Linked DNA regions of Homo sapiens: all the other regions are reported to be linked to region 4. The links are microRNA targets in miRTarBase. Many come from high-throughput screens and were not tested one by one. Region 4 holds a microRNA gene; each other region holds the end of a gene's coding sequence.

Region 1 (4,078 bases), not on the chromosome of region 4:
ATATCATGTAGAGATGACTTTAGAGAAATCGTAGCAGAGATCGAGTTGCAGTAAGTTGACGATTGAATATACCCTGAGCATATGGCAAAGGATGAATAGGGATGGGAGATTCTCAAACGTGGCTGAGCATTAAACTCATATTTAGAGTTAAGGAAAAATGAACTCCAAAGTTTCTTCCCTAGAGATTTTTATTTGTTGATCTGCAGAGAAAAAAAAAATGTGTATTTTTACAAACTCTTCAGATGTCCTGTGTTCAGTTTGGATTCTCTGGAAAGCAGACACCAAGAGGGAGTGAAAATGGGAAGGGAGGAATACATGTGTGGGTGGGGAAGAATACATGTGTGAGAGAAAATGGGAAGGGAGCTGGAGAAGGCTGGAGGAGCTGACAGACTGCTATGCAAGTCTATACCAATAAAGGCAGGAGGGAGGATGGTTGGAAGTGTCTCAGAGCACTCTGCAGGTTTAGCAAGCTTGTCAGGGAGTCCTCAAACTGAAGTTGGCCATGTGAGGAGTTCTGTGTCTTTCAGGAATAGGCCTGCCTCAGTATCCCTGCAACACTCAGTCATTAGCTAGAACAGCCTGATCTTGGCACAAACATTGTGATGGATTTCAGAATGCAGCAGCTGGGGACTTTTGGACAATTAAATGCCCCATAGTTGGAAGTCTTTGAGGCACATTCTCCTGGCTGCCACATATACCCTGCCATTTTAAGACAATGAAATGAGGGGAAAAAAATCCAAACGGGCTGTAGCTGGACAGGTTTTTGGGCCCAAGGCAAAGTTTCATGTTGCTTTTTAGATGGGAAAGATTTCAGTGTTTGTAAGCCTAGAGAAAGGAATCTGCACAGTGGGAGAACTTAAAGATAAAGAAGAGGGATAGCCAGAGGGAGGCAGAAAAGGAGAAGGAGAATGGGAAAGAATGAATTGTAAAAGACAAACACTCCAGAAAAGGCAGGAAGAAATGGGATCCAAAGGTTATGGCTTTGAATTTAAGGCATGACATCTTATTCTCTGGGACAGTGTCTGGATATGGGTTAAGGTCAAAGGTTGTAGGGAATTGAAAGGAATTGCGTTTAGTTATCTTAATTTCTGACACAAAATAGGAGTCAAAGTATTAGGAGTCTTGGTAGAAGGTTTGGTCTTGAAGAGGAGATATCCCGTCTTCTGAGGCTGAAGCTAGAGTCAAGGTTGGATGCAGAGAAAGACTGTTTTGTAGATGTAGGATCAAGTTAAGAGAGAGGAAGCCTGATGGCCTCAATATTAAAAAAATATATTTATTTCTTTTTTTTGAGACAGGGTAAATTTTTTTGAGACAGTGGCACAATCATGGCTTACTGCAGCCTCGACCTCTCAGGCTCCAGTGATCCTCCCACCACAGCCTCCTAAGTAGCTGAAACTACAGGCATGTGCCCCCACACCCAGCTAATTATTTGTATTTATTGTAGAGACAGGGTTTTACCTTGTTGCCCAGGATGGTCTGGAACCCCTGGGCTCATGAAATGTGCCCTCCTCGGCCACACAAAGTGCTAGGATTACAGATGTGAGGCACCGCATCTGGCTAGCCTCAATTTTTTTAATGAAGTAGGAGGCAAGGTTATCCATTGAAGGTATTATTTATTTGCAGCTCATCTTAAGTGACAAAATTCCATACAGAAGACTATAACAGAAATCATATTTAATATATTAAAATTAATACTTCAAATATCTTTCACATTAAGATGATTATCTATTGTGTAAATCTTTCCTAGGTATGTGTGTCTGTTTCTTGATGTGTAAACCAAAACTCTGAAATATTCTCTTGATCTAACTTTGACTTTTAAAAACTGACATTGTACTGAATTTACATAATTCTCAATCAGAAAAAAAATTACTGTCAGACTGCAATGCAAGTCTGCCCCAATGAAGGCAGGAGGAGGGATGGCTGGAAGTGTCTCAGGGCACTCTGAAAGTTTAGCAAGCTTATCAAGGAGTCCTCAAACTAAAGCTGGCCAAAAACTTCAGCATAAAAACTATCCTGTCTGTGTATTATATATATTTATTACCAAATTTAATAAACAAAAACCACTTTTGAACCAGGTAATTTTATCTAGTGTGAAAAGAAATTAATCACATGGTCATATACTGGCTAGTGCTCTCTAAAAGTAGACATTAAAATATTTCATAATTGGAGGGAATCTTTGGAGATTAGTGGCATCTAATCTTGGGGCCTCAGACACCCAAAATCTATATATTGACCAGTGGAAGTTGATGATTTGTTATCAAATTTCAAAGCACCTAATGGAAACCCCACTTCATCTCTGTGAAGATTTTCAGTTCCTTTACAGTTATTTGAAATTATTTCAATTCTGTGGAGCCACTTCAGAAACTCCAATGGGCCTTTGCAATATTAAAATGTGGAGAATGCATTAATCATTATTTAATCAATGAGTTTAAAAAATAGACAAAAGCTTCTGAAACATGGGACTGAAGTAGGCGGAGCATTATAAAAGCCTAAGGTAATTGGTAGTGAAGAGTTGGAAAAACTTACTTAGTCTAATATTGTAATTTACAGATAAGGAAACTGAGAAGATAAATAATTTATTCAATATCACTCGATGGTTCATTAGTAGAAGAGCCAGCATTATGATGTACTCATTTTGTACTCTAGGAGTTGTTAAAAAGCACTTAATATCTTCTTTTCTTGGGTGTTAGCATTTTTCATTTTTTAAATCATGCTATTTAGTGTTCTTAACATTTGAAACCCAAATGGTTCACATTTTGTTTTTGGATTGCTTTGGGAATGAGTATGTACTGTTAGAGAAGGGCCCAATCCAAACACTAGAATTTTAATAATTTCTACTCCCTCTGCTGGCCAACTTTCCAGTAAAATGGATTTTAAAAAAAGAGAAAAAAAAATCTAGCGGTAATTGAAACAAAAACAAAAACTTTAAAAAGTGTCTTCATTATAAAGAGGTGCCATGCATAAAAGCCTAGGTAGTTTCAAGGTCCATTCTTCCATTCCTCATGATTTTAGGGTTATCCTCATTCAGATCTACTCTAGTTATAATAGTACTTTAAACAGAGCACAGAATTAAACCATTAGTATGTGAATCTGCAAAAAGAGAACTTGTTTTAGACTCTTCTACAGTTTAGACTTCAATGTGCATACTAAATGCATAACATTCGTATCAAATAATTAACATTTATATACAATTAACAAATAAGGACAAATTTTATACAAAACTTCTACTACTGCTATAATTTTTGAAAACATTTAACCCACTAGCAAGAGGTAAGACAGCACTGCCTTTTTAAAAGACAGGTCACTTGAATAGAGAATATAAGATATAACCATAAGTAGAAGTATAAACAATAATTTTTCTTCTTGTGGAATGTTTTTAAATTTCCTTTCTTATATTATTATTCTTCCTTAGGTTTTTTTAGACAGGTCATTTCTTCCTGAATGATTTTCCTTTTTCTTTTATTTTTATTTTTTGAAGGAGGATTATTTACTGGTGGTCTAAAAGAAGTACCTTCAACTTCTTCATAATTGTAGCCAAAGCGGAAATGGAATATTTAATAATTCTTACATCTCACTAATGTAGTCTTCTGAGTTAACAATTAAGCAGAGAGATTATTTTCTATGTTCAAACTTTAAACACTTTGTAAAGATAATTGGGATTTCATAACAAATGATAATAAGTGGTTTTGTGCATTAATTTTCTTGATACCCAATAACATGCCAATTAAAATCCAGACTTCACATTGGCACCTAATGAACACAGCAGAATGACCAAAGTTGAGTGCTAGTCATTGTCATAGATGCAGCCTGAAAGGAAAAAATACAAATTTAAATATAGTTATTAAAAACATATTCTCTAAGTATTCCAAGTTTGGAAATGTGGGTGATTCATACTCTCCTGGTTAAGGATTAAAAAAAATAGAACTGGCTCACTTTATAAAAAATGAGTTAAATGGAAGATCATATATTTAACTTTTATTATTTAGTATATAATTCAACAAAATTTCTGGACAGATTTATTCTCTATTAAAATGAGACTCAAGATTATTTTATGTGGCACTTAGTCATATACTTTTTG
Region 2 (4,000 bases), not on the chromosome of region 4:
AAGCTGAAATATTTATAACAGCAGAACCCCACAATAAAATACGATAGAACTTCTTGGCAACAGTTTATTGCTCAGTTAACTATTTTGAAGCATTTCTGATAATTAGCTTGTGGGTAAATTAGATTTTGCAAAAAGTTTGCAAAATACTCTTGATTCTTGAAGAGGTGAGGTTATTGAGAAAGAGTATTTTGACCCAAGATTTATGTGAAAGCTTGAATGTCATTTTAGTAAGATGGTTTCCTTGGCTGTCTACGTCAAGAGCTTATTTAGCGTAAAAACATTGAGTTGTACTGCGCATCAGTTTTTTTCATTCTGTTGACCAATAAATACTTTCAGGACCATAATCCCTTCTTGGCTTAGGCATCTCAGGTGTCAAGGATGATAGAAGTCCTTTGCCTGCGTTTAATACCAATTGTAGCAAGTAGAAGAGTCTTTATGCTTGGAATGACACCTTTGTTTGTGGCTGCCATAGCCTAATGTAGTCAATACGAAATAATTGACTTTTTTTCTTTTTTAACAGGTGAAGAGCAGAATAAAGAAGCGCTGCAGGACGTGGAAGACGAAAATCAGTGAGACATAAGCCAACAAGAGAAACCATCTCTGACCACCCCCTCCTCCCCATCCCACCCTTTGGAAACTCCCCATTGTCACTGAGAACCACCAAATCTGACTTTTACATTTGGTCTCAGAATTTAGGTTCCTGCCCTGTTGGTTTTTTTTTTTTTTTTTTAAACAGTTTTCAAAAGTTCTTAAAGGCAAGAGTGAATTTCTGTGGATTTTACTGGTCCCAGCTTTTAGGTTCTTTAAGACACTAACAGGACTACATAGAGGCTTTTTCAGCATTACTGTGTCGTCTCCGTGCCAGATGTGGCAAGATCACCATTAGCAAATGGAAATTACATTTGAAAGCCATTAGACTTATAGGTGATGCAAGCATCTAAGAGAGAGGTTAATCACACTATAGAGGCATAAGTGGTATCAGTTTTCATTTTTCTAATTGTTTAAACTGTGTTTTATACCAGTGTTTGCAAGTAATTGGGTGTTAGCTTGAGATGGTTAAAGGTGGTTTGGGGAGGGACTTCGTTGTAATGGTTTTGCTGTAAAAAATGTTTCCAACTCCGCTGAAATGTTGCTGAAAAGCATGGTGCTGGTAACAGTTCAACAATCCGTGGCTGCTCATTCTTGCCTACTTTACTCTCCCACTGAAGCAGGTTAGCGTTGAAGGTGGTATGGAAAAGCCTGCATGCCTGTTCAATTCTTTTGTTTCTTCTCCTTCCCCCTCCCCCTACCTCCTTCCCCTCACTCCTCCCCTCCTTCGCTCGCTCAACCTCTTTTGTTCAGTATGTGTAACTTGAAGCTAATTTGTACTACTGGATATCTGACTGGAGCCACAGATACAGAATCTGTATTGTTCTTACTGAAACACAGCATGGAATTAACATTAAACTTAAATAAAACAAACCTAAATTAAAAATGCCAAATATCGCGCCTCCATCCTTTATACTTCTAAAATAAAATCTCTAGTCCAAACACACTGACAGTATTATGTTTGCCTGAATGTGAAACATTCCTCCTTTTTTCTTCCATAAATAATTTGTTTGCTTCCCAAAGATGTATGTTTTGGAAAAAAATTGCCTGTAGTCTGGTTGTGAAGAACACTGAGTCAGTTGATGGTGTGTCTTGTCCTCCAGACCAGGCAGCAACATGGTATTTATTTTAATCATTAAAGTACAACATGAGTAGTACAAGGTGTAATTATGGATCATTTTCTAGCATAGTATTTCATACAACCAAATAAGGCTGAATGTCTTATAATAATTCTTAGAGGTAAAAACTGTGTGCCCTCTTCCTCCAGAGGCTAGTGGCAGTAGTGGAGAATTACTCAATCCTTTCTTAGTAATCCATACACACATTATAGACAGCAGGATAGCAGTCTCCCTTTCCAGAAACACTGTATAAGAAGCTTCTTTCCATAAACAGTTTATACATCAATGTGTATAGATACCTAGTTACTGTAGATCTTTTTATGTTAGGCATTCAGATGTGTCTCATTCTGACTGCGTAACATTGATGTACACCTGATTTTGTTAAGACCAGTTTGCTCCTTTTGGGCAGGTGCTGCAGGAAATACCCTTGGAACAGTTTTTGCTTAAATATTTGTATGTATCTGGAAGGTACATTTCTAGATTCCCTGTGTCAGTAAACATTTTTCAGTTGATAAATCCTTCCTCGTCACACTTGTCTTCTAAAATTGGATGTTGAGACTGCAAGTTTACTCTCGGTTTAAAGTGTTAGTAGCAGAGATTTAGGAAATGAACAGATCAGCGATATCCTAGTAGCGTTTAGTGAGTGCTGGCAATGAGAATAAACATGTTTTTGTGAGTTGCTTTTCCGAGAGATAGGGAGACCATTGAATATAATTATATGCTGCTGTTTGGAGCAACCTCCAAGAAGCTTTCAAGTTGATTTGCTCTGTTTCCAGCACACCTGCTACACTTAAAGGTCAAAATCCAAGGAATTCGTCAAGTCTGTTGCAGAGTTTAAAGAAACCACTCGGCTGGGTGCGGTGGCTCACACCTGTAATCCCTGCAATTTGAGAGGCCGAGGCGGGCGGATCACGAGGTCAGGAGATTGAGACCATCCTGGCTAACACGGTGAAACTCCGTCTCTACTAAAAGTACAAAAAATTAGCCAGGCATGGTGGCGCACGCCTGTACTCCCAGCTACTCGGGAGGCTGAGGCAGGAGAATCGCTTGAACCCGGGAGGCAGAGGTTGCAGTGAGCCGAGATCACGCTACTGCACTCCAGCCTGGGCGACAGAGTGAGACTGTCTCAAAAAAAAAAAAAAGGAAAGATCCTTATCAAAAATTGAAAGGCCGGGTGCGGTGGCTCACGCCTGTAATCCCAGCACTTTCGGAGGCCGTGGTGGGTGGATCACGAGGTCAGCAGTTAAGAGACCAGCCTGGACAACATGGGGAAACCCTGTCTCTACTAAAAATACAAAAAAATTAGCCAGGCGTGGTGGCGGGCGACCTTGCTGGGTGTAATTAACATCCAGTGACTTGGGAGGCCTGAGGCAGGACAATCGCTGGAAACTGGAAGGCGGAGCTTGCAGTGAGCCAAGATCGCGCCACTGCACTCTAATCTGGGCAATAAGAGCAGAACTCCGTCTCAAAAAAAAAAAAAAAAAAAAAAAATTGAAAGGGAGCCAGGGAAGCTGCAGAAAGGTGCCGTAGCCCTGTGAGGACGGTGTCACTCCCAGTTCCTGTATTTGTGGGCTGGAAAGGGAATTGCCCCCAAACTTTTCTGGTTTTGATTTGAGTCTTACTTTGAGGATCAGTCGACTTAAGTAGAAGTTTTTAGTTAGTTACAACTTGAATGTAGCTAATATGTGTTTTTAATTACAAATCTCAGTACTTTGCTGCCTTGGAAAACCCAAAGGCTTCCTACAATGTTAGAAGCGACAGTAAGTGGGTTTGTGTACATGCTCTGTTCCGGGTGGGTCCTCAGAACAGCACGTCTGCAAAGTTAAATTTCGGTCCTATAGGAAGATGGGGATGAACTTCCATCACTGAAAGGGGAAACTGGTGGGATAAATGGAGACATTAATTGGCTTCTGTCCCAGACAAATGCCTTGAGCCTTATAAATGAGACCCCAAATTAGCTGCTTCCTGATCCTAGGACAATAGAGGAGAGTGAGGCTTGCTGAAAAAGCGGGATAAAGGTGTGACCCCTGTGTTCTTTTGAAAATTGTAACAAGTAATAGTTCATGGAAAACTGGTGAAATCCTAGAGTGTGTCATTAAAGGAAGCCTTTGTGAGCACTGTGAGAGGAAATGGGAATGCTCCCAGATCCAACCTGGATCAGGAAAACCAAGCCCTGTGTTGTTTTATCCTGTTTCTTTGAGTTCGTAGGATTGTAATAGATACTGTTAATATTTAGCTAACATTGGCCGGGCGCGGTGGCTCACGCCTGTAATCCCAGCACTTTGGGAGGCCGA
Region 3 (4,070 bases), not on the chromosome of region 4:
CTCCGTGGCCCAGTATTGGGGTTCCTCATCCTGAGTCCTCTCACCCCTGTCTTCTCTTCTCTCCTCCCCACCTCCTTCTACCACTGTAATCTCTATCCCCTGGGCTGGAGTCAGCCACCAACTCTAACCCTCCCTAGACAAGGAAATAGAGACCAGAGAGGGAAAGAGCCTGCCTCAATGAAACCTGGAAAGACGCAAGAGTCCTAGTGTTCCGGGCTGGCACTTTCTAAAGCAGCAGTGTCACTGCGGAGCCTGCAGGGAAGCTTGACTCCAAGCTGTAGATTCTAGTAGAACGTGGAATCCTGGGAACCTGTGGAATGAAGGGGTCTCTGGTGCCTGTGCAAAAAGAAACCCAAGTCACCTACTCTGTTTGGTTGCACAAGGGTGGGATCCTAAAATTCTCTTTTCATGCCTTTCTCCCCATGTGTTCCTGCCCCCTAGGCCCCCACCAAGCCCATCAGGAACCATCACTGCAGCCTACGGTCAGCCGCAGAACCACTCCATCCCCGTCTATGAAATGAAGTTTCCCGATCTGTGTGTATACTGAATTCCAAGAGCCTGAGCTCCTCAAGGAGATGGGGTCTGAGGAGGGGCTCACCTCACGCCCACCCCGACCACATGGAGATCTGGCTGTGATCTCTGAGAAAACATCACCTTAGATGGCAGCGCCTCCCAGGCTAAGCCAAGGTGGAGACTCTCTGGTCCTTCTTGGCCCTCCTACCTCCTCCTCGTCTTCCCTGAGGGAGGTCTCACCAATCAGCATCTCACCTGTGCCCTCTTTGTCTTCTCTTGTGTCAGCCAGGGGCAGAGAATCATGGGGTGTCTCTCAGGAGAAGCCGGGGGGAGGGGGCTGAGAAGCTCCTACTTGGTGTTTTGAGTGAAGGGCATGTCCTCCCCAGAGGACGGAGCTGGATGGAGACTTGGTTGGTGAGAGGAAGCTAAGGACTCTACTCCCCTGGGGAAGGAAGCTGAGATGGGGATGGCTCTCTCCTCCCCAGCACTCCCCCTGCTCCCCGCCCATGTCCCTGCTGTGTCTCTCACTCTCTTGCTCATCTCCCAGTTGTCTGTTCATGTTTCTTTCTACTATTAATGAATGCTGAGCCCTTATAACAGGAGCTGGGGTGGAGACATCACGAGGGGTCGGGGGACAGCAAAGGGCAGGAAGCAGGATGCAGGGCTGGCAGGAGGTGGGCCTGTGGCATCAGCAGGCCCAGCGGGCGAGTGTGGTCCCTGCAGCAGCTTCCCACCTCCTTTGTTCATAAGGAGCTTGTGTTGGCCTCCCACAGTCCTGTCTGCTGGACGTTTTTCAGAGTTGGGTTCTCTCTCTTTGATGTCTTTCTTCTGAGGGTCCCAAGGTGTTCCTGGAGCTTCTGGGTTGAGGAAAGGCAGAGCAAGATAATCTTGGAGGGGAACTACAGGGTCCCCAAGATTTGCCCACATCACCTCCTATGGAAAAGGCTCCCAGCCTGACCTGGGTTGTAGGAGAGTGGGGAGGGTGGGATGAGTGGTGTTTTGGGGCTCAAGGATATCAGAAGCCAACTTTTTGGATGTTCCGTTTGAAGAAAGAAGGATCTAACACCTAATATTGGAATGATTTCTTCACTCTCTGGACAAAGTCTGGGACATCAGCACCACCTGGCAACGCTTGTGGCTTGGGAGGAGCCATGGAGACCCCTTTGGGTTCTGGGTTCCTGTTTTCCTGGTGTGCCGTCTGTGTCTCTGTGTAATGAGGATGTGCAGAGAGGAGCTAACGCGGAGCCGGGCAGAGCCACCCAGGAGGCAGTTTGTTGCCTTCTTTGCCAATTCCCCTTCCCGGCCCCTCCTCCAGGTGCCTTTGTGTCTCCCGGGGTGCCACTGACAGAACCTCACCTGGGGCTCCTCCCATGGCAGTGCCATGTGGTCCAAAATTGCCCTTTCCTTCTCCGTTAGTCACATTTCCCATAACTCCTCCGAGCCAACATAACCTACAGTAAGATGTGAGTGTCAGACGTTCTCTCCCTGGAGTCTGCTTTCCAAAGGAGGCAGGGTGAGTAGATTTCTTGATCCAAAGGAATCCGTTTTTAATTTTTTTTTTTTTCTAGAGATGGGGGTCTCACTATGTTGCCCAGGCTGGCCTCGAACTCCTGAGTTTAAGTGATTCTCCCACCTCAGCCTCCTGAGTAGCTGAGAATCCCTTTTTAGGGTACAATTTCAGGCAGTGTGGCATGGAGTCAGAAGCAGGCTGTTTCTCCTCAGGGGAGGGCAGGCTTCTCAGGACGGCCTCAGCTCATAGCCCCACGTGTGGTGTGCACGGATGTGCAGGGAGAGCCTGATTGTTAGGTGGATGTATTTTCCAGAATCGGGGAGGGACTGAACACGAGCATTTCCCATTAATATGTGCAATAAATGTCTTGGGGAAGGGGCTATTTGACCCTCATTCCCATAGTTTTGGCACTTCAAATGAAGCTCTTCCTTGTGGTCACCATCTCTGCTGTGGGCACACAGCTTCTTTTTCTTGTTTTTTTTTTTTTTTTTTTTTTTTTGAGACACCGTCTCGCTCTGTCACCCAGGCTGGAGTACAATGGTGTGACCTCAACTCACTGTGACTTCCGCCTCCTGGGTTCAAGTGATTCTCCTGCCTCAGCCTCCTGAGTAGCTGGGATTACAGGCGTGCACCACCACGCCTGGCGAATTTTGTGTTTTTAGTAGACATGAGGTTTCACCGTGTTGGCCAGGCTGGTCTGGAACTCCTGATCTCAAGTGATCCGCCCGCCTCAGCCTCTCAAAGTGCTGGGATTACAGGCGTGAGCCACTGCGCCTGCTTGGCACGTGGCTTCTGAATGGCCTGAGTGAGGGCAGGGCCCAGGCATGGAGGCTCCTGCACCCCCAAGGCTTTTTGGCTGTGCTTTATGGCCTCTGGCTTATACTCAACCCAATTTTACAAGCATGAACTTAGACTTCTCTTTAGTATTTATATATTTAAAAACCAAGTTTAAATTAACTCAAACTTGACAGCAACTAACCTCTGAAAGAAACTTTAAAGAAAATTGAAATCTTGAGCCACAAACATGTTCTTTCCTCACTAGCTCCTCCCAGGTTTTATCCTGCACCCAGCTTGGATGAGAGACCCACTGTTTCTTGTGCCTACTTAACATTAGGGTTCCCCGTGGCAGCTTCATCCTGAGCACTGCCTGTGAGCCCTGGTTCTGGGACTTGGCAGTCGCCTCCCTGGAGCATCTTTCCAGAGCCAGCATTAGAACCTGAGATCCCCAGATGTTTCTGCCCCTCATCCCCATCCTGTGAATAGAGAGACAGAAAAGGTGCAGGTTCCCATTCTGCATAGATTCTGCTGTTTCCTCTCCACCGGTCCCAGGCAGCTTTTCCTTTCCATCACTGCCGCTTAGCAAAAATGTGCTTCTTTTGAAGAACTGGTCATTTTTTTTGAGTGCCCTCTTCTCAGTTTTGTTTAAACTTACACTCAGTAGAGTGTTGGGTTGTCTGCTGACATGGAGTAGAACCTGGATTCTGGCCAAATAGGCCAGAATCGGAAAGGTGAAGGTGAGTGTGATAGTAGGTAATCTCCTCACCCCAGCACAGGCCCTGGGAGAGAGGCAAAGCAGTTTGATGGGATCTGGAGGGGAGGGAGGTACCCTGGCCCTTGGTCTAGCATCAGTGAGTCCTGCCCTTCCAAGCCCCTGGAGGCTAGTGGCATTGCATTGTGCCCCTTTTTGCCACCCTTCTCTGATGTGATTTTGAGCGAAGAGGAGTCAGTAAGCCCATTGAGACCGGCTGCTCCCAAAGCCCGAGGACTCTAGCTGTGTGGGGAAGGGCTAGCATTGGTCAGGACTCTGCTGACAGCACTGAGTAGGCAGGAATGTATTTGAGATTTGGAAGTACTGTTAATTTGGTGGAGTCAGGTGAATGGATAAGAGGCAGATCGGCAGAAAGCATCAGTGTGGTCCCGAGGCTCCCTCTGTTTTCCTTGCCATGGAGTCCCCAGCGCCTTGTGCCTGTTTCCATTTCCCTCTCTCTTTGAAAAGTAGAAATCAGTGGTTTCTTGACTCCTAAACAGCCTCCTCACTATAGAAGGA
Region 4 (4,078 bases):
TCAAAAAAATGTAAATGGCACCATCACAGGGCTGTTGTATCATATGAGAAGGTACTGCATGTGGGCCATGCATACTCTCTGCCTACGACCTATGGGGCTGGGCTGCCCACCCGGCTCGCAGTGGCACACCTGCACGACACCGAGCAGTGAGGAGTCCTTGTTGAGATGGGCCGCAAGCAGCCCTCCGGTCCTGATGAACTCCCTCAGGCTGAGCCTCATCTCACCCAGCCCTGGCTTTCCTCCTTCCCAGGACACTGGGCCTGAGGAAGACCCTGCCCTGTCCCTGCACAAGGCCTTGATCCTTGCCTACACTGTTTTCTGGCTGTTGTGTGCTTCAAGGGGATGTGGAAAAGGATCCCTCTCCTCAAAACCTGGCACTTCTAAGCTGTGCATGCTGCAGAAGCACCTGTGGGCATGGAGGCAGCAGGCCTATGTCTGGATTCTGCCCTCCGAGGGCCATCAGGCTGCATGGCGTTGTCTTCTAGGCTCACTTTCCTACCACAGAGCTGCTACCAAGGAACCCCAGTCCAAAGGGTGGCTGCAAGCCTCTCATTCCCCAAACTGAGCCTGTACTGTTTGGTTCTCTCATGAAGACAAATACGGAAGAGACTAATGGAAAGCCCAAAAGAGAAGGTGAAATGTGGCTCACCATCTGCCTTTGGTCTTGGCAGCCCAGGGCATTTGGGCACCCCCACCAGCTTTTTTTTAAAGATGGAGTCTCGCTCTGTTGCCCAGGCTGGAGTGCAGTGGTGCAATCTCGACTCACTGCAACCTCTACCTCCTGGGTTCAAGTGATTCTTCTGCCTCAGCCTCCTGAGTAGCTGGGATTACAGATACATGCCACCACACCTGGCTTATTTTTGTATTTTTAGTACAAACGGGGTTTCACCATGTTGGTCAGGCTGGTCTCGAACTCCTGACCTCAGGTGATCTGCCCACCTCAGCTTCCCAAAGTGCTGGGATTACAGGTGTGAGCCACCGCGTCCAGCCAGTTTGGGCCTTTTCTGCACATTGCCTGTCCCTGTAGGGGCTGCCACGCTGTCCTGGGTTCATCCCAGTGCCCAGGTCCACTGACAATATCTAGCTTGAAGTACTAGCCTAGCCAGCTAAGACCAAGCCCCAGGGAGTGGCTGAGAATCTGAATCTCCAGGACTCTCCCGGTCCCTCCCACTCTGGAGCTAAGGACATGTTCCCCGTAGACCAGGTGATGCTCCACTTTCAGCTGGGTGCCCTCCTGTTTCCTGGGATGGCTGTGACTTGGGCCCCAACAGTGGCAGCAGTGCCCTCTATCAGGATCCCCTCCCCCACCTGATAGGGCCTTCAGTCAGGGCAGTCTCTCGAGGGCCAGGCAGGCCTCTGTGATGCACTGTGGAAACATTGCATGGGTACCACCAGAACATGCAATGCAACTACAATGCACCACAGCTGCCCGCCAGGAGGTATGCGGCCAGCCAAGGAGGTGCCCAGGGTGGTCTTCAGCTCTGTTTGTGTGCCCGAGGGGGCAGGAACCCACTCCAAGGCTGCCTGCAGAGGCCTGGGAAGTCACGCAAACCGCTGGAGCAAATGCAGGTGAACCCCTGGCCAGCTGGGGTGCACCTGGGCTTACAGAGGCTATGGGCCAGCAGGACCTGGGACTCTGGGAGCCTAAGAAAGGTGCAGGTAGAAACACACTTGCCTCAGAGGCTGAAAAGGGATGAAAAAGGAGTCCACCTAGGCCAATAAGCCGTAACTTTTTTGAAAGGGGGCTGCTGTCCTGGTTTCTCTGTCTTTCGGATGGCCCCACCCGCAGGGTCAGCATGAGGTGAGTGGGAGTGTTCTCGTAAACCAGTGCAGAGCACCTCCCCCAGGGGCCAACTCAGCTCCCACTCACGTGGTTGAGGGCAGGGTCAGAGGTGGCCCCACTGACGTTGAGGCTGCTCCATAGGTGGCCACTGGCCCTCTCGCAATGGCAGAAGGAACTCTGCTGCCCATCTGCTTTCCCAGGGAGTGAGGCATGCATGGCTCTGCAGGCATGGAAGATGGCCTTCACCAGGGGGCTCCTGCAGCAGTGACAGGGAGTCGAGAGGCAGGTCACTATGTGTCACCTGCGTGACAGGCAGAGGGGCCCAAGCCAGTGACTGCCACGCCCCACACTGATATGACATGTGCATCTGTTGACTCCAATGCTGCCACTATGGCACCATGCCACCAGCTCCAGATCTGAAATGCCAGCCCTGAGCTAGGGTTAGCGCCCCACCCTTTAGCACCTTCATTCAATGCTGGAAGTCAGAGACACAGGCTTCACCATCACGTCTGCTGCTAAGAAGCCACCCAAGATAGTCATTCCAACGTGTGCCTCAGTTTCCTTACCTATAAAGTGGCCACAATAAGGTGTTGTACCCGTTCTTTAAGGGACCACCCCCCCAGAGATGTGGTATTAAACTCTCTGGAGATACTTAGTTAGCTTCTTTCTGTAGAGGAGACTGGGAGTGGAAGGGGAGGCTAGGGATGGGGGAGGGTTCTCATAGCATCCTAGTCCCTGAAAAGCAGAGGGACCCAGGGGTAAGTGAATCCAGCAGGCAGCAGTGCCTGCAGGGGTGTCTTGGCTGTCCATGGAAGCTCTGCTGCTCTGGAGCGAGGTGACTTTGGACAACTTACCTGCTGAGTCTCAGTGTCCTCAGGCACATCGACTGGGGGAGACACACATACAGGTGGAATGCTATACCGGGCTGGGTGCTTACCTAGTCAGAGTGCTTACAAATGGGGCTACTTCAATGAAATTAGGGTGTCACATCTACTTCAGGGAACAAAGGACTTCAAGCCTGTGTATACTCACTCTTCTCAGCTCCTTCCTGTGCGCCGGTTAAGGGTCTGCTTGATAGGAAATGCTACAGCCTTGGCTCTAAGGATAGGACCTCGTGGGGCCTTTCTGTCTTGGAGCATTTTACAGTTTCTCTTAGAATACTCAGATCCAATTAGAAACAGCCGGGGAGTCAGCAGGCAGGGCTGCCCATCACTAGTGCCGAATGCCCCCAAGACGCAGACATGAATCTCCAAAGAGGAATGTCAAAAGCTCTCCGGTTATGCCATGTGCTAAAGGCTATTTTAGTTACAGGACAAAGTTGCCAGGGTTGATGGTGGGGGTGGAGGTGGCTGGAAGGAAAGTGGATAAAATGCTAGCACACAGGGGCAAGATGCTCCAGTGCACATGAGTTTTGGGGGCAACAGTGGCCTCTCTGCACTGATTGTGAACCACCAGTGCCTGCCTCCACCACAAAGCTTCTGAAGATGCTGGGGGCCACACTGCTCTCGTCTCTTCTTTTCAGCCTGTGGCGCCATGAAGGCTGCAGGGAGGAGGACCCGGACACAGTGCTGACAGCTGCTGGGACAACTGTCGTGTTGTGCAGAGCAGGACACTTGCACAGAGGACCTGCTGGCCCAACTTGAGTTCTCCATGGTGCCCTCACCCCCGACTTTTCTAGCCGCCCACCTGTCATGCAGTCCTGACCCTTCACCCCAACACGCCCACCCAGTCCAGTTTGCTCCTGCTAACTCAAACAAGATTCCCCTGGAGAGAAGCAAGTGAGTGGCCAAGGAGGGTTACGCACTCTGTCACTTCCAGGGCCTTGGGGATGCGTTCCACTTTGGTAAAATGAGAGCGCACAGCTGCATCGTCTCCCTGGAGCCAGCTGATGGCCACAGTGATTGCAGACGTCCACCACCGACAGATGATGTCTGGACCTAGAGGAGAACAGCACCAAACGCACTCCAGCACCCACAGAAACGAGACCTGTGGCGCTCAGAGGCTGCTACACTTCCTTCCTAGGAGATGGGTAACATCTTTGCCTGCTGGGAACGGGCCAGCAGCCTCTGGGCTCCCACACCCAGGATTCTGGGGGAGGGGAATAGACCAGCACAATCTTGGAAAGTGTTTGGCAATATATATCAAGAGCCTTAAAAATGTTCATTCCTGGTTGGCCGCGGTGGCTCACGCCTGTAATCCCAGCATTTTGGGAGGCTGAGGCAGGTGGATCACCTGAGGTCAGGAGTTTGAGACCAGCCTGGCCAACATGGTGAAACCCCCTCTCTACTAAAAATA
Region 5 (4,078 bases), not on the chromosome of region 4:
TTCTGACTTCTGGCCAGAGGCTGTACTTCCCAGACTGTCAGAATGGCCACCCTGCAGACTGCAACCCTTTGAGAAATAAAGCTCTCCTTTCCAATTTTTAAAAATAAAAAAACCTGATGGTAAAGGAATGAAGCTGCTTTTGTTCTAATCTGCATTTCCCAAAAATGATTTGACAATATATTTTGTTTGGAGATGGAGTCTCACTCTGTTGCCCAGGCTGGAGTGTAGTGGCACAATCTCGGCTCACTGCAACCTCTGCCTCCCAGGTACAAGCAATTCTCCTGCCTCAGCCTCCCAATAGCTGGGATTACAGGCACCCGCCAACACGCCCAGCTAATTTTTGTATTTTTGGTAGAGATGGGGTTTCACCATGTTGGCTGGGCTGGTCTCAAACTCCTGACCTCAGGTGATCCACCCACCTGGGCCTCCCAAAGTGCTGGGATTACAGGTGTGAGCCACTGCACCCGGCTGACAATGAAGATTTTACAAATACCTTCTAAATTCATTTTGGGAAAGGCTAGTTTCAGCCCTTTCCAAATGTAACTCGTCTCCTCTGGGGAGCCCTCTCAAATTGCTTTAACTTACTCATCTCCCCTTCCTGTCTTGCAGCCTTTGATCATATAGGAACCCATGTGTCATGTTCTGAACCAGTCAGTCTCTAAGGCAGGTGCATAGAGCAGCTGTGTCCAGCTTGCCCTGGAAAGAACAAGTACCATGTGGCAGAAGAATAGGGACGGCCTTGCCAGGCTCTGCGGCCTAGCCCTGGTGGGTTTCCCAGAGATGACTGTGTGAGGAAGGGTGGTATGATTTGGCAGTTTCTCTCAGCTACAGCTCCAAATAGGCTCTAGAAGAGCATCACTCACTGTGGTCACTGTGTCTTCCCCTTACAAAGGGCAGTGAAGGTCTATGGTTCCAACTACAAAAAACAAAAATTAATATCCTATTCCCAGAGTACTATGCAAGCACTTTCAGCGTCATTCTCAGGGCACCATCCAAGCAGACAGGGCCTATTACCAACCCTTACTTATGTAACAGAAGTAACGTCACACTACTTCAGTACCCTGGGCATATCCACCCTCAGCTGGACCTCAGAGCAACTCATCTTGGGCTAGAGTTGGGGACCCAGAGCAAGCAGGTCTTAGTATTTGTGCCTGCACTTGACCTGCCTCTAACCTGGAGGTAATGGCTTGTGTTCCCCTTCTGCCACAAGCAATCCCAACAGCTCAAGCCAACCTTCCAACTAGTCATGTGGGGCCTTTTTGGCAGGCTCCTGGCTACACAATACTCACTCACACCATTGTGCACTGGAATAATTTTTATTTTTTTCCTTGGCAAAAAGTCAAGTGCTACATTTTTAAAAACAGAAAATCTCAAACAATCAAACGCATTACCCATTACAGAAGAGGGTCTAGCAATAGTACAAAACATCCTACTGAAGATTTTTTTTTTAAATATACAAGTCAGTTTAAAATGATAGAAGTTCTGTGAGAACTAAGAAATCTACAGCCTGTAGTTTAATAATAGAAAAAAAATTAAGACAATTAAAAGATCTATAGCATCCAGCATTTTGCTTAATTCCCTGTTTATAGCACCTATTTCTCTAGGTTCGAAGATGAGAATTCCAGAACCTGTGGTATGTGCTGTGTAACAAGTTAGGGTGGACTTGCTGTCTCTCCTCTCCAGTAGCCCCCCACCATTAAAAGGAGAATATATATATAATTTTTTTTCCAATTTCCCTTCTTACACCCAGAGAAGAGGGGGACAACTGGGAGAACAAGTTAAAAAACTGGGGTGCAGGAATAAATATGACTTTTCCTTTCCCCAAAATGGGATGTTGACAGAAAAGCAGAGTATGTGCTTAGAGGAACTGGTGGGTGGGAACAGCTGTTATCTTTGACATGATGTGTAAAAATCAGGGAACAAGTGGACATCACAGTCAGCTGCCTGCAAGTTTAAAAACCTCAGACTAAACAGACAGTTCAAGGGAGGAACAGACAAATTACTAATCACATTGATGCTGTCACATGCACAATGATGCTGACTGCAGGCCAGCCTGTCACCATCTCAGGGCTAAGCCAACAGAGTAGGAGGGGTGGCTTCAACCCCAAGTCCCACTGCAGTAAGAAAATGAATATTCCACACATGAAGCACTCACTACACACAGATAAACCCCCTGCTCACCCCCACCTTCTTAGACTTAACCCAATTTAGAAAATAATAGCAAAACCCACTGGGGAGATTGGAAGAATGGCAGAGAGGATTCTCCTCAAAGCCATGGGGGCTATGGATGTGAATCTTAGCAGACTTGAGACTCCCAGCTCCAGGCCCCTTAAAACCAGATCAGGTCTTGAGGGGAAGGAGAGAGAAGCTAGGATGGGGATTCAAGTCCCATGAAGCCTTTTGTAGCCTCTGGAGCTGCACCTGGATGGTGAGTCTGATGTTTTAGGGGTGTGGCTACTGGCTAAGCAGATGTGAGGGTGGGAAGGGGAAGTGACACCAACTTCCCACACGGGGGACACACAGGTGGGAAGACAGGTAGGGCTGGATCACTTTGCAGTCCTGGCATGGGAGGCCCCAGGAAGCCTACAATCTAACTAAAAAGATTTTCCCAGTGGTAATTTCTTTTCCTTTCTGTTTTTACTTCCTATTATCAGTGTTGTTAGACTTAAAAAACAAGATACAGACTAGTCCCAAAGCTGGACTCTGTGAATAAAGTTGTTTCTTTTATAAATATTTTAATTACAAGTAATCCTCACTCCAGGTAATTTCAGTGACACACAGTACCTACAGGCACACAAGATCACACACACACACGCAGACAAGATCTCTCTCTCACACACACACAGACACACACAGCTCCCAAACTTTCACAGAAAGTCTGAGAGCAACCATGTAATTATAAAGGAGCCCTACCTCTCAAGAGTGAAGTAAGGGTGAGCTATGTCATTTCAGCCTGAAGAAGCCAGAGACAGGAGAATGTGTGTCACTTAAAGAAAAATAGGGATTAGCAACAATGTTTGGTTGAAAAGCCAGAAATAATAAAAGATAGTAAAATTTTGATTACCAAAGGGGAAAACAAAAAGCAAAACAACTTTCAGATTTCTGTACAGAGCTTCTTCCTATTAAGTGCCTAAACTATAGGCAAACTTTGGTGTTCCCACTAAAACACAAGAGCCTCACACAATTAGGAAAAAAAAAATCAAAAGAAACAAGGAAACTGAGAATGGAAGTTAGTGTAAATCTCTGCATTTGGGGAGTTGTCATTAACTCCAGAGCCCAGCATAGTTTCCATGGAGCCCTGAAGGGAGGGGACCTCCTGCCACAAAGAGTTTCGTTCCAGACGAGTCGTAGCAGTGGGTGTAAACAGCATTGGGGAAGAAGTCAATGTCTGAAAAGTAATTCCTCCAGGTTTCATCATGATTCTACGGGAAGAGAAAGAGACTACAATTAGCACCTCTAGCCATGGGGCAGGAAAAGGGGGAGGAAGGGACAGGAATGCTTTCTGGTCTCCTTAAGGGAACAGGGTTCTACAGGTACAACCTCATGTCAGGAGATTGGCTGGTTGGTTCTCATGGGAATCAGGGCCTCATTTTTCCAACTAAACGTTAGAGAAGAACGGAGCAGCTGAAGAATTGCTATACAAGGCTCAGTTCTTCTCAGGAGACTTAGAACCAAAGTTCTGTTTTCCCTCCACCTGCTAGGCACAGGAGGAAGAACCAAACACTTGAATAATTCACTGGAGGTGGGGCGCAGTGGTTCATGGCTGTAATCCCAGAATTTTAGGAGGCCAAGGTGAGAGAATCACTTGAGCCCAGGAGTTTGAGACCAGCCTGGGCAACATGGCGAGACCCCATCTCTACTAAAAAAAAATAAATTAGCCGGGCACAGTGCATATGCCTGTGGTCCCAGCTACTTGGGAGGCTGAGGCAGGAGGACTGCTTGAGCCCAGGAGTTCAAGGCTACATACAGTAAGCTATGATCACACCACTACACTCCAGCCTGGGCAACAGAGTGACCCTGTCTCAAAAAAAAAAAAAAAAAAAAAATTCACTGACAGCTGTGGTGGGAGGTCCCTTAT
Region 6 (4,078 bases), not on the chromosome of region 4:
CGCAACCTGACACATCTAGAAAGCCTCCACCTGGAGGACAATGCCCTCAAGGTCCTTCACAATGGCACCCTGGCTGAGTTGCAAGGTCTACCCCACATTAGGGTTTTCCTGGACAACAATCCCTGGGTCTGCGACTGCCACATGGCAGACATGGTGACCTGGCTCAAGGAAACAGAGGTAGTGCAGGGCAAAGACCGGCTCACCTGTGCATATCCGGAAAAAATGAGGAATCGGGTCCTCTTGGAACTCAACAGTGCTGACCTGGACTGTGACCCGATTCTTCCCCCATCCCTGCAAACCTCTTATGTCTTCCTGGGTATTGTTTTAGCCCTGATAGGCGCTATTTTCCTCCTGGTTTTGTATTTGAACCGCAAGGGGATAAAAAAGTGGATGCATAACATCAGAGATGCCTGCAGGGATCACATGGAAGGGTATCATTACAGATATGAAATCAATGCGGACCCCAGATTAACGAACCTCAGTTCTAACTCGGATGTCTGAGAAATATTAGAGGACAGACCAAGGACAACTCTGCATGAGATGTAGACTTAAGCTTTATCCCTACTAGGCTTGCTCCACTTTCATCCTCCACTATAGATACAACGGACTTTGACTAAAAGCAGTGAAGGGGATTTGCTTCCTTGTTATGTAAAGTTTCTCGGTGTGTTCTGTTAATGTAAGACGATGAACAGTTGTGTATAGTGTTTTACCCTCTTCTTTTTCTTGGAACTCCTCAACACGTATGGAGGGATTTTTCAGGTTTCAGCATGAACATGGGCTTCTTGCTGTCTGTCTCTCTCTCAGTACAGTTCAAGGTGTAGCAAGTGTACCCACACAGATAGCATTCAACAAAAGCTGCCTCAACTTTTTCGAGAAAAATACTTTATTCATAAATATCAGTTTTATTCTCATGTACCTAAGTTGTGGAGAAAATAATTGCATCCTATAAACTGCCTGCAGACGTTAGCAGGCTCTTCAAAATAACTCCATGGTGCACAGGAGCACCTGCATCCAAGAGCATGCTTACATTTTACTGTTCTGCATATTACAAAAAATAACTTGCAACTTCATAACTTCTTTGACAAAGTAAATTACTTTTTTGATTGCAGTTTATATGAAAATGTACTGATTTTTTTTTAATAAACTGCATCGAGATCCAACCGACTGAATTGTTAAAAAAAAAAAAAATAAAGATTCTTAAAAGAATTACAGTGTGTGCAAGTTTGCTTTGAAAAAAGGATGAAGGGCAGGAGTATTCAATGGTCTTGGTTCCGATGATAATTATTACTTAACATAGCTGAGAATCAAACTGTAGCAATGTCTAATATAAATAGACTTGGGAGATCGTTTTGAAATGGTGGATCCTTTTAGTATTTAAATGGAGAGTTTGAGTATTCATGTGACTGTATGGTCCCAAAGTTAATGCTATTTATGAAACAGTTTTGTAAGAACATAATGAAGTTGGTAAAAGCTAAGCGTTCTGCACAATAAACAGTTCCCAGTTTGGGGCTTTTTCAAGGCTAATGAAGTTATTGTTGGTCTAGAAAAATAGTATTTACTTAATAAAACTCTGTTTGAAATTGTTCTGTGGATTTTTAGAGCAGAATTTGAAACAAATGTAATGCAAATAAATATAAAGATAAAGTGTCTTAAAGACAATATTCTGAAATAAAAGATATAAAATATAATTTAAAAAATATTTCTCAATGTCTTAATGTAAATTGAAACTTAGATTTTCTTGAGGATATTTTCAAAAAAACATTTAAAGTGGAACATAAATGTTCTTTAGTTTATCAGAGACCCAGCTAATATGTTTAAAAAGTTGACTTGACATGGTTGAATATGAACTTGAGGAAATAACCACAGATAAATGTCTACATCTGTAAACACGTGTCTCAAGTATTTATAGGTTCTTATCTTCAGTTCAGTGTTTAAGAATTTGAGGATATTTTGATTTTAGCTAAGCTGTTCATAATGTAAGTATATACACCTTTGTGAAGAATAAATCACATTTAGGTGTAAATACAGGCAATCATTAATTGATACATCCATAATATACAAGGCTTTTATTATTTTTTCAGTTTATTATCTGTCATTTAATCTGAAAAGTAAATTCCATTAATCAGTCTTCAGGCTCTTTTATCAAGTGATTTAAATGTAGCCATTATTGCTTAACTGAAAGTATTAGGTAAACTTGCATCAGTAAGTCTTAGGGCTTGCTTTTCCTTTGAACTGGTTATGTCCTTCAGTGCTTTATGTTTGAAATAAAATCTACATTTTCATATTTTTATAAATAAAATAGGATCAGATAGTATTTTAGGTTCTAGAAATCTTTGCTGATTCCTTCTTTGAATTAAATTCAGAAATTTTCAAAGTAGGGCTAAAAATAAGTAAATCTTCCTTTTTATAGGTTAGAATATATAGTCAGAATACAAAGCTGTAATTCCTTAAATTCCATCAGGCTTGTTTTGTGAAATATAGTATTTATTATTTAAGGGTTATATTTCAGATCCTATAATTACCTCAGAAAAAGCTAAATATTTGGCACTTAAAATTCCATCAAACAGTTTAAGTGTTCATCAGAAATTCCTAAACTGTCTGGTTGCCATTATTTGGTAAGAACAATGAGATACTAATCTGTCAAAAATAGTGACCACTATCTTAGTAAACTGTTGATGGACTTAGTAAGTCTTCTGATATTGTAGGAAACAAATTATAATATTGATAGAGCCTCTATTGAGAAGAATTGTTTCTTCATCACATGATAATCTAACAGTTTAAAGTGGAGCTTTATCTAAGAACCAGGGAAGCAGTAGATTCATTAGTCTAGCTTTTCTCATCAACTCTTTGAAGCAATGATGAATCTGATAAAGTGAAGCCAAGTTTTCCCTGTTAGGTAGATGGCTTCTTTGAAGTTATAATTTATTGCTTCTTTTTCATCCCCCTACTTATTCTCTTGTTTGGACTTTCCAATTGCTACTGCTTTGTTTTCCATCACATCACTCCTTCCTGTTCTCCAAAATATGGAAATAAAAAAGTCAATTAAAAGAACACCTTATTCTTAAGATAAAAAATTGTTATTATTTGACAACTAATTAATGTTTTGCAGCCCTAATATTCTTAAGTCTATAAGCTTATAAAACATTCTAAGTTCCTTGGAAGATAGAGGCTATATAAATTCAATAAGTATAAGGGAATATGGGAAAAATAAAAGTATCACTTTATTTAAAAATAAGACAAGTCTGTTTGTTTTAAATACTGTTCTTACTATTAATGCATTGTTGACTCTAGAAACCTGCAAGTATCCATTTTTAAAATTTTATTTTAGTTGGTAATACTCTTTATTACTGAACGTAAAATTTTCAACATAAAACACCCTTCATTTATCCTTTACAAGTTTCATTTGAAGAAAGTTAGAAAAAATACTTAGAAATTCAAGGACTTGATATATCCCTTAATTTAGAAAGCTATTCAACTATCCCATAAATTTCTATTTAAAGTAGCAAAAATTTTAGGATAATACAGCTATTTGGCCCTGAATTATAACTGCCCCCTTTGATTGTAACCATTCAGTTTGCAGCATTCGTTTTTGTAATAGCAGTTTGGCTGCTATGGGTGTGATTCAATGGTAACCTACAAGGCAAATTTGTACAGGAGCTGACAGATTTTTCTAACAAAATAAGGAGACTTTGAAGCACATTGAATAGGAGTTTTTAAATGAATAGGATTTTTTAAAGGAAAAAGAGTAGGAGCTTGGGGGGGAAGGCTGGTTGAAATAAATGAGCAAATCACAAATAATAAATCCTTTAGAAATACCTTGATTGGCAGTAAGTGTGGATTATGCTCATCTCAGTATTTAATTAGAAATAACTTACCTTTGTCTTTTGTCTTTTTAATTAAAGTGGCTGTAAAAAAGAAGGTCCAGATGAACTGAGATTGTTTGCTTAGGAATTCTGTTTTACTCTTTTCCTTTTACCTGATGTTCTAAAACAGGGCTTACCTTGTTGAGGACCTTAGAGGCTTTGCAATTCTAGATTGTGATTCTTTCATATCATTTTAGTTTTTCTCCCAAGACTAC
Region 7 (4,078 bases), not on the chromosome of region 4:
TGTCCTAACAAACCCCCTTCCAGAATGGCTTTAGTCTCTAGTGCTTGCTAGCATGGGAGCTTTGTCTTGAATTCCTTTTGATCTGCCCCGTTTCTCTCCAGCCTTAGGAATAAATCTAGAGGCTATTGTGCAATGATCTGTGGGCTTTTTAGAAGTCTCTAAATTTCCTTGAAATTCAGTACAGCCCAGCATAAACTACTCAAGTTCTTGATCAGCCTGCTGCTTTGTTCTTATTAATAAAAGCAGTGTGTAGCTGGCTAAGGACTTGTTTTATTAATGCTCCACAGGAGCAGAGACAGACAGAGAGACATAGTGAGCCTTGAACCAAACACCTGTATTCCAACATTTTACACAGCGGTCTGGGCACCCTGTGCCTAGGAGAGCCAGCTACGTGTCTACCTGAGTCTGACCTGGGCCAGGGGCTGTTATCTTGGGAAAGCCAGAATGTCATTAAGAAAGGGACAAATAGGCAGTTGCTTGTGTAGCAAGGCAGCCACCAGGTTGCTCAAAGGGGGTTCTGCATAAACCAACATATTTTGTTGTTGCTTCCAGGGCAGCAGAAGAAGCCTTTGTAAATGACATTGACGAGTCGTCCCCAGGCACTGAGTGGGAACGGGTGGCCCGGCTGTGTGACTTTAACCCCAAGTCTAGCAAGCAGGCCAAAGATGTCTCCCGCATGCGCTCAGTCCTCATCTCCCTCAAGCAGGCCCCGCTGGTGCACTGAAGAGCCACCCTGTGGAAACACTACATCTGCAATATCTTAATCCTACTCAGTGAAGCTCTTCACAGTCATTGGATTAATTATGTTGAGTTCTTTTGGACCAAACCTTTTTGTCTTTAGAGTTGTTCATTGTTTGTGATTGCATGTTTCCTTCCTTCAACTGTGTTCTCCCTGGCATTCAGAGAGGAGGGAGAGGAGGAAGAGGAAGGGGAGGGAAGCTTCCCAAGAGTAGCCTCAACCTGTGCTTCTGTGCATTATTCTGAGAATAAATTTCTGTTTCAAACTGTATTATGTGAAGCTTCTTTATTGACCTCAAGATGTGTTGTAGTTTGGAGTGAGGTTGGAAGGAATTTCCAGGAGGAATTTCCTTGAAATTTCTAGGGCTGAGGAGGCACAGCCACTGGGCACACAGCCCTGCCTTGAACTAAGATAGCACCGGGATCTAGAGTGGGATCCTGTGGACATTTTCATTTGAGAAGGGAGTTTAGTGGCTGAAGGTTAACCCCCTCATTATCTACCTAAGACACAGCTGTGAATCCTCTCACCAACCTAGTCGTTTTCTCCCAGATGGGCTCTTGCTTGCCAGTGTCCCTCAGTTTAGGGTCTTGGATAGTATATTTCGGCAGGAGTCTGTGGGGCACGTAGACTCTAGTAAGACCTTGACTCCTTTGGATCCGGCCAGTAAGCCTGAGTCAGGACGGCATTCATGTGTGGCTAGCCCCATTACTGTTGAGTCCTGTAGCACATGTTGGGTTCTGTGCCATCCCAAGCACTTGGTTCATATTTCTCTTGTAAAATCCTTCATCTAGACCTGTGCTGTCCAGTGCAGTATTCACCAGGCCCATGTGGCTATTTAAATGAATTTAAAATACATTTCTAGTCCTAGTCACAATTCATGTGCTCAGTAGCCATATGTGGTTAGGTGGCACTCGGATAGCACAGGTTATAGAACATGTCCATGGTCGCAGAAAGCTGCACTGGACCATGCTGATCTACCACAGGTGTTTCCAGGAGCCCGTGCTTTGTTCAGACACCAGTAAGTTCATTATCTGTCTTCAGAACCTGGCATAGTACCTGGCTCGTTTTAGGTGATGTTCCAAGCAATTATTAAAGCTATATTTCAGTAATCTGCTTATAACTACCTGGTACTTCCAAACTGGAGATTGAGGTAAACTGTAATACTATGCTCAGGATGGGGGTTAGGTGTTGCCATTGCCAAGAAGGAAAGGCCACTATCTCTTCAATGTTAATTATTTTTGGCTGGAAGGAGCTTTCATTACTTTTCCTGCTACCTCCCCGTTTCCAAGCTTAGTTGGGCTTTCCTTGACCTGGCCCACATTTCTGGCCTCTGCTTATTCCTCCCCCTTTAGTCAAATCTTATTACAATCAAGCAATCATTGTTCCCAGACTTTTGTTCCTACGGGACCTGCTAATCCCATTCCAAATGTCAAAATCCAATTTAAGAACTAGTTCAAAGGCCACCCCCCTTCCCCTGAACTCCCATGGCCATCTACCTGGGGCAGCTTATTTTTGGTAGTCTTGGTGCCATCGTCTGGACCAGTCTTGCCTCCCACACCAGCTGGGCTTCTTGAGGTGGGAGGTGGCAATTTTAAATGTCAACAAAATCTGTGACATTCTCTAGATGGAGAGGTGACTGAATAATGTGACAAAAGTGATGCTGGGATGACTTCCAAGGCTAGGTCATAAAAGGCAGTGCTGCTGATGGTTGATTTGTTGGAGCAACTAGCTGGTGGCCCTGAGCCGCCTCATAAAAAATTCTACCTTTGAAGCTACCCATGTGGTGAGGAAGCCCAAACTAGCCCACAGAGAGGCCACCTGAGAGACCCTGTAACCACACACATTGGGAGATGCCTGGCCAGCCAGCCTCGTGCTATTCCAGCTGACAACTACAAGTGCAGGATACTCTTGAGCTACAACTGTCAAGTTTGAGCCTTTCCCAAATCCTGACCCACAGAAACCACGACGTGAAACAATTACTGTTGTTTTAAGCTCTTCAGTTTTGAGGTTACACAGCAATAGTAATTTGGGATTGTTTCTAATGCCTGTATGAGACCCACATAGGGCCTCATAAAAAGAGGGAGTGGGTCTAGGGACTCAGTAAATGCTTAACACTTAGTTTCAAACCTCTTTCTTGGGGGCTACTTTGCTTTTTTATGCCAAATTTTCAATGTTATATATAGCAATGTTTTGTTTTTGTTGTTTTTGAGACAGGGTCTCACTGTGTCGCCCAGGCTAGAGTGCAATGGCATGATCATAACTAACTTACTGCAGCCTCCACTTCCCGGGCTCAGGTGATCCTCCCACCTCAGCCTCCTGAGTAGCTGAGACTGCACCATGCCTGGCTAATTTTTTTTGTATTGTTTTGTAGAGATGGGGTTTTGGCATGTTGCCCAGGCTGGTCTCGAACTCTAGGGTTCAAGCAATCTTTCTGCCTCAGCCTCCCAAAGTGCTGGGATTACAGGCATGAGGCACCATGCCCAGCCATGCTTTCTATTAATAGACTTTTTTTGGTTAAGAAAGCAATGATATTAGAGGCCTTAAGGAAGTTATATAACCTTCAAAACGTAAGCAGTGCAACAATTAAATCTCTTCTGGGAAGGAAAATGCTTTTGGCTAATGAGTTACGAACAAAACAAAATACAACAGGATTTCAACAAGGAAATGTATTTATTTTTTCTTTAGAATTTGGCTCAGAACAGTAACAAAAATATTTACATTAAAATAAATTAACATGCAATTACTTAACCATATGTAATAATTTACGTTGGAATATATTAGCCTTCCCATGAGTTTAATAAAAACTAATATTTGGTTTTAGATTCAATACCATCCTTTCAAATATTTGGTATGAAACTTGGTAGCAATGCAATTGTCTGATGTACAGAGCAGATTTCACCATGAGAGATTACACCAAAGAACAGATGTCCCTTCCCAGAACATTATCTCACCCCAGACTCAGAAACTGAGCAGCCAAGCTTCCTTCCCAGGAATCACCATGGAATGTCTGAACAATAACCAGGCCCTGGAGATTACTGCAGGGCTGGCAGAGTTTTAGGAATCAGCCAAACTCTTTTTCACACTAACCCACTAGGAAGGATATAGTTCAAATGTAATGTTGAGTCCTTCAGTTTATTTGAACACTGAAACAATATGTTGTAGAAACCTTCATTTTCCCAAAATAGAAATCTGAAAGATATATGCACATGATTTCTTAGATCATCTAAAAGTACCCATAAAAACCTGTCACTAGGGCCAGGTGTGATGGCTTACACCTGTAATCCCAGCACTTTGGGAGGCAGAGGCGGGCGGATCACCTGAGGTCAGGAGTTCAAGACC

Evidence for each region. The annotated mature microRNA hsa-miR-33a-3p reads CAAUGUUUCCACAGUGCAUCAC and lies in region 4 at 1,359-1,380, opposite strand. An mRNA with a match to its seed (bases 2 to 7 or 8) in the 3' UTR can be bound and repressed. Matches are read on the target gene's strand: a 7mer-m8 pairs with bases 2 to 8, a 7mer-A1 pairs with bases 2 to 7 and ends in A, and an 8mer does both.
Region 1: miRTarBase lists FYB1 as a target of hsa-miR-33a-3p. Seed matches in the 3' UTR shown: 7mer-m8 at 3,370-3,376.
Region 2: the mRNA of YWHAE is a reported target of hsa-miR-33a-3p. Seed matches in the 3' UTR shown: 7mer-A1 at 1,438-1,444 and 7mer-m8 at 1,563-1,569.
Region 3: miRTarBase lists EFR3B as a target of hsa-miR-33a-3p. Seed matches in the 3' UTR shown: 7mer-A1 at 3,130-3,136.
Region 5: miRTarBase lists DCAF12 as a target of hsa-miR-33a-3p. Seed matches in the 3' UTR shown: 7mer-m8 at 3,013-3,019.
Region 6: miRTarBase lists TPBG as a target of hsa-miR-33a-3p. The part of its 3' UTR that is shown has no 7-base or 8-base seed match.
Region 7: the mRNA of CLTA is a reported target of hsa-miR-33a-3p. The part of its 3' UTR that is shown has no 7-base or 8-base seed match.

What each region holds. Positions count from the first base shown.
Region 1 is chr5:39,103,659-39,107,736 of GRCh38, forward strand. FYB1 (FYN binding protein 1) reads right to left here. Exons shown (of 19, transcript NM_001465.6): 19 at 1,594-3,807. The coding sequence ends at 3,785. Among named protein-coding and RNA genes, the nearest start is that of RICTOR, 31 kb to the left of the region's middle.
Region 2 is chr17:1,342,020-1,346,019 of GRCh38, reverse strand. It overlaps YWHAE (tyrosine 3-monooxygenase/tryptophan 5-monooxygenase activation protein epsilon), which reads left to right. Exons shown (of 6, transcript NM_006761.5): 6 at 521-1,745. The coding sequence ends at 573. Among named protein-coding and RNA genes, the nearest start is that of YWHAE, 56 kb to the left of the region's middle.
Region 3 is chr2:25,153,794-25,157,863 of GRCh38, forward strand. It overlaps EFR3B (EFR3 homolog B), which reads left to right. Exons shown (of 23, transcript NM_014971.2): 23 at 442-4,070. The coding sequence ends at 547. Among named protein-coding and RNA genes, the nearest start is that of POMC, 13 kb to the right of the region's middle.
Region 4 is chr22:41,898,291-41,902,368 of GRCh38, reverse strand. It overlaps MIR33A (microRNA 33a), which reads right to left and starts at 1,425; the gene lies at 1,357-1,425. SREBF2 (sterol regulatory element binding transcription factor 2) reads right to left here. Exons shown (of 19, transcript NM_004599.4): 15 at 3,588-3,720; 16 at 1,871-2,039.
Region 5 is chr9:34,085,087-34,089,164 of GRCh38, forward strand. It overlaps DCAF12 (DDB1 and CUL4 associated factor 12), which reads right to left. Exons shown (of 9, transcript NM_015397.4): 9 at 1,301-3,422. The coding sequence ends at 3,264. Among named protein-coding and RNA genes, the nearest start is that of UBAP2, 38 kb to the left of the region's middle.
Region 6 is chr6:82,365,724-82,369,801 of GRCh38, forward strand. TPBG (trophoblast glycoprotein) reads left to right here. Exons shown (of 2, transcript NM_001376922.1): 2 at 1-1,697. The coding sequence ends at 501. Among named protein-coding and RNA genes, the nearest start is that of TPBG, 3.9 kb to the left of the region's middle. RefSeq lists an enhancer at 1-508.
Region 7 is chr9:36,211,051-36,215,128 of GRCh38, forward strand. It overlaps CLTA (clathrin light chain A), which reads left to right. Exons shown (of 5, transcript NM_001833.4): 5 at 553-1,009. The coding sequence ends at 724. GNE (glucosamine (UDP-N-acetyl)-2-epimerase/N-acetylmannosamine kinase) reads right to left here. Exons shown (of 12, transcript NM_005476.7): 12 at 3,391-4,078. It overlaps LOC124902151 (a long non-coding RNA gene), which reads right to left and starts at 2,961. Exons shown (of 2, transcript XR_007061474.1): 1 at 2,236-2,961.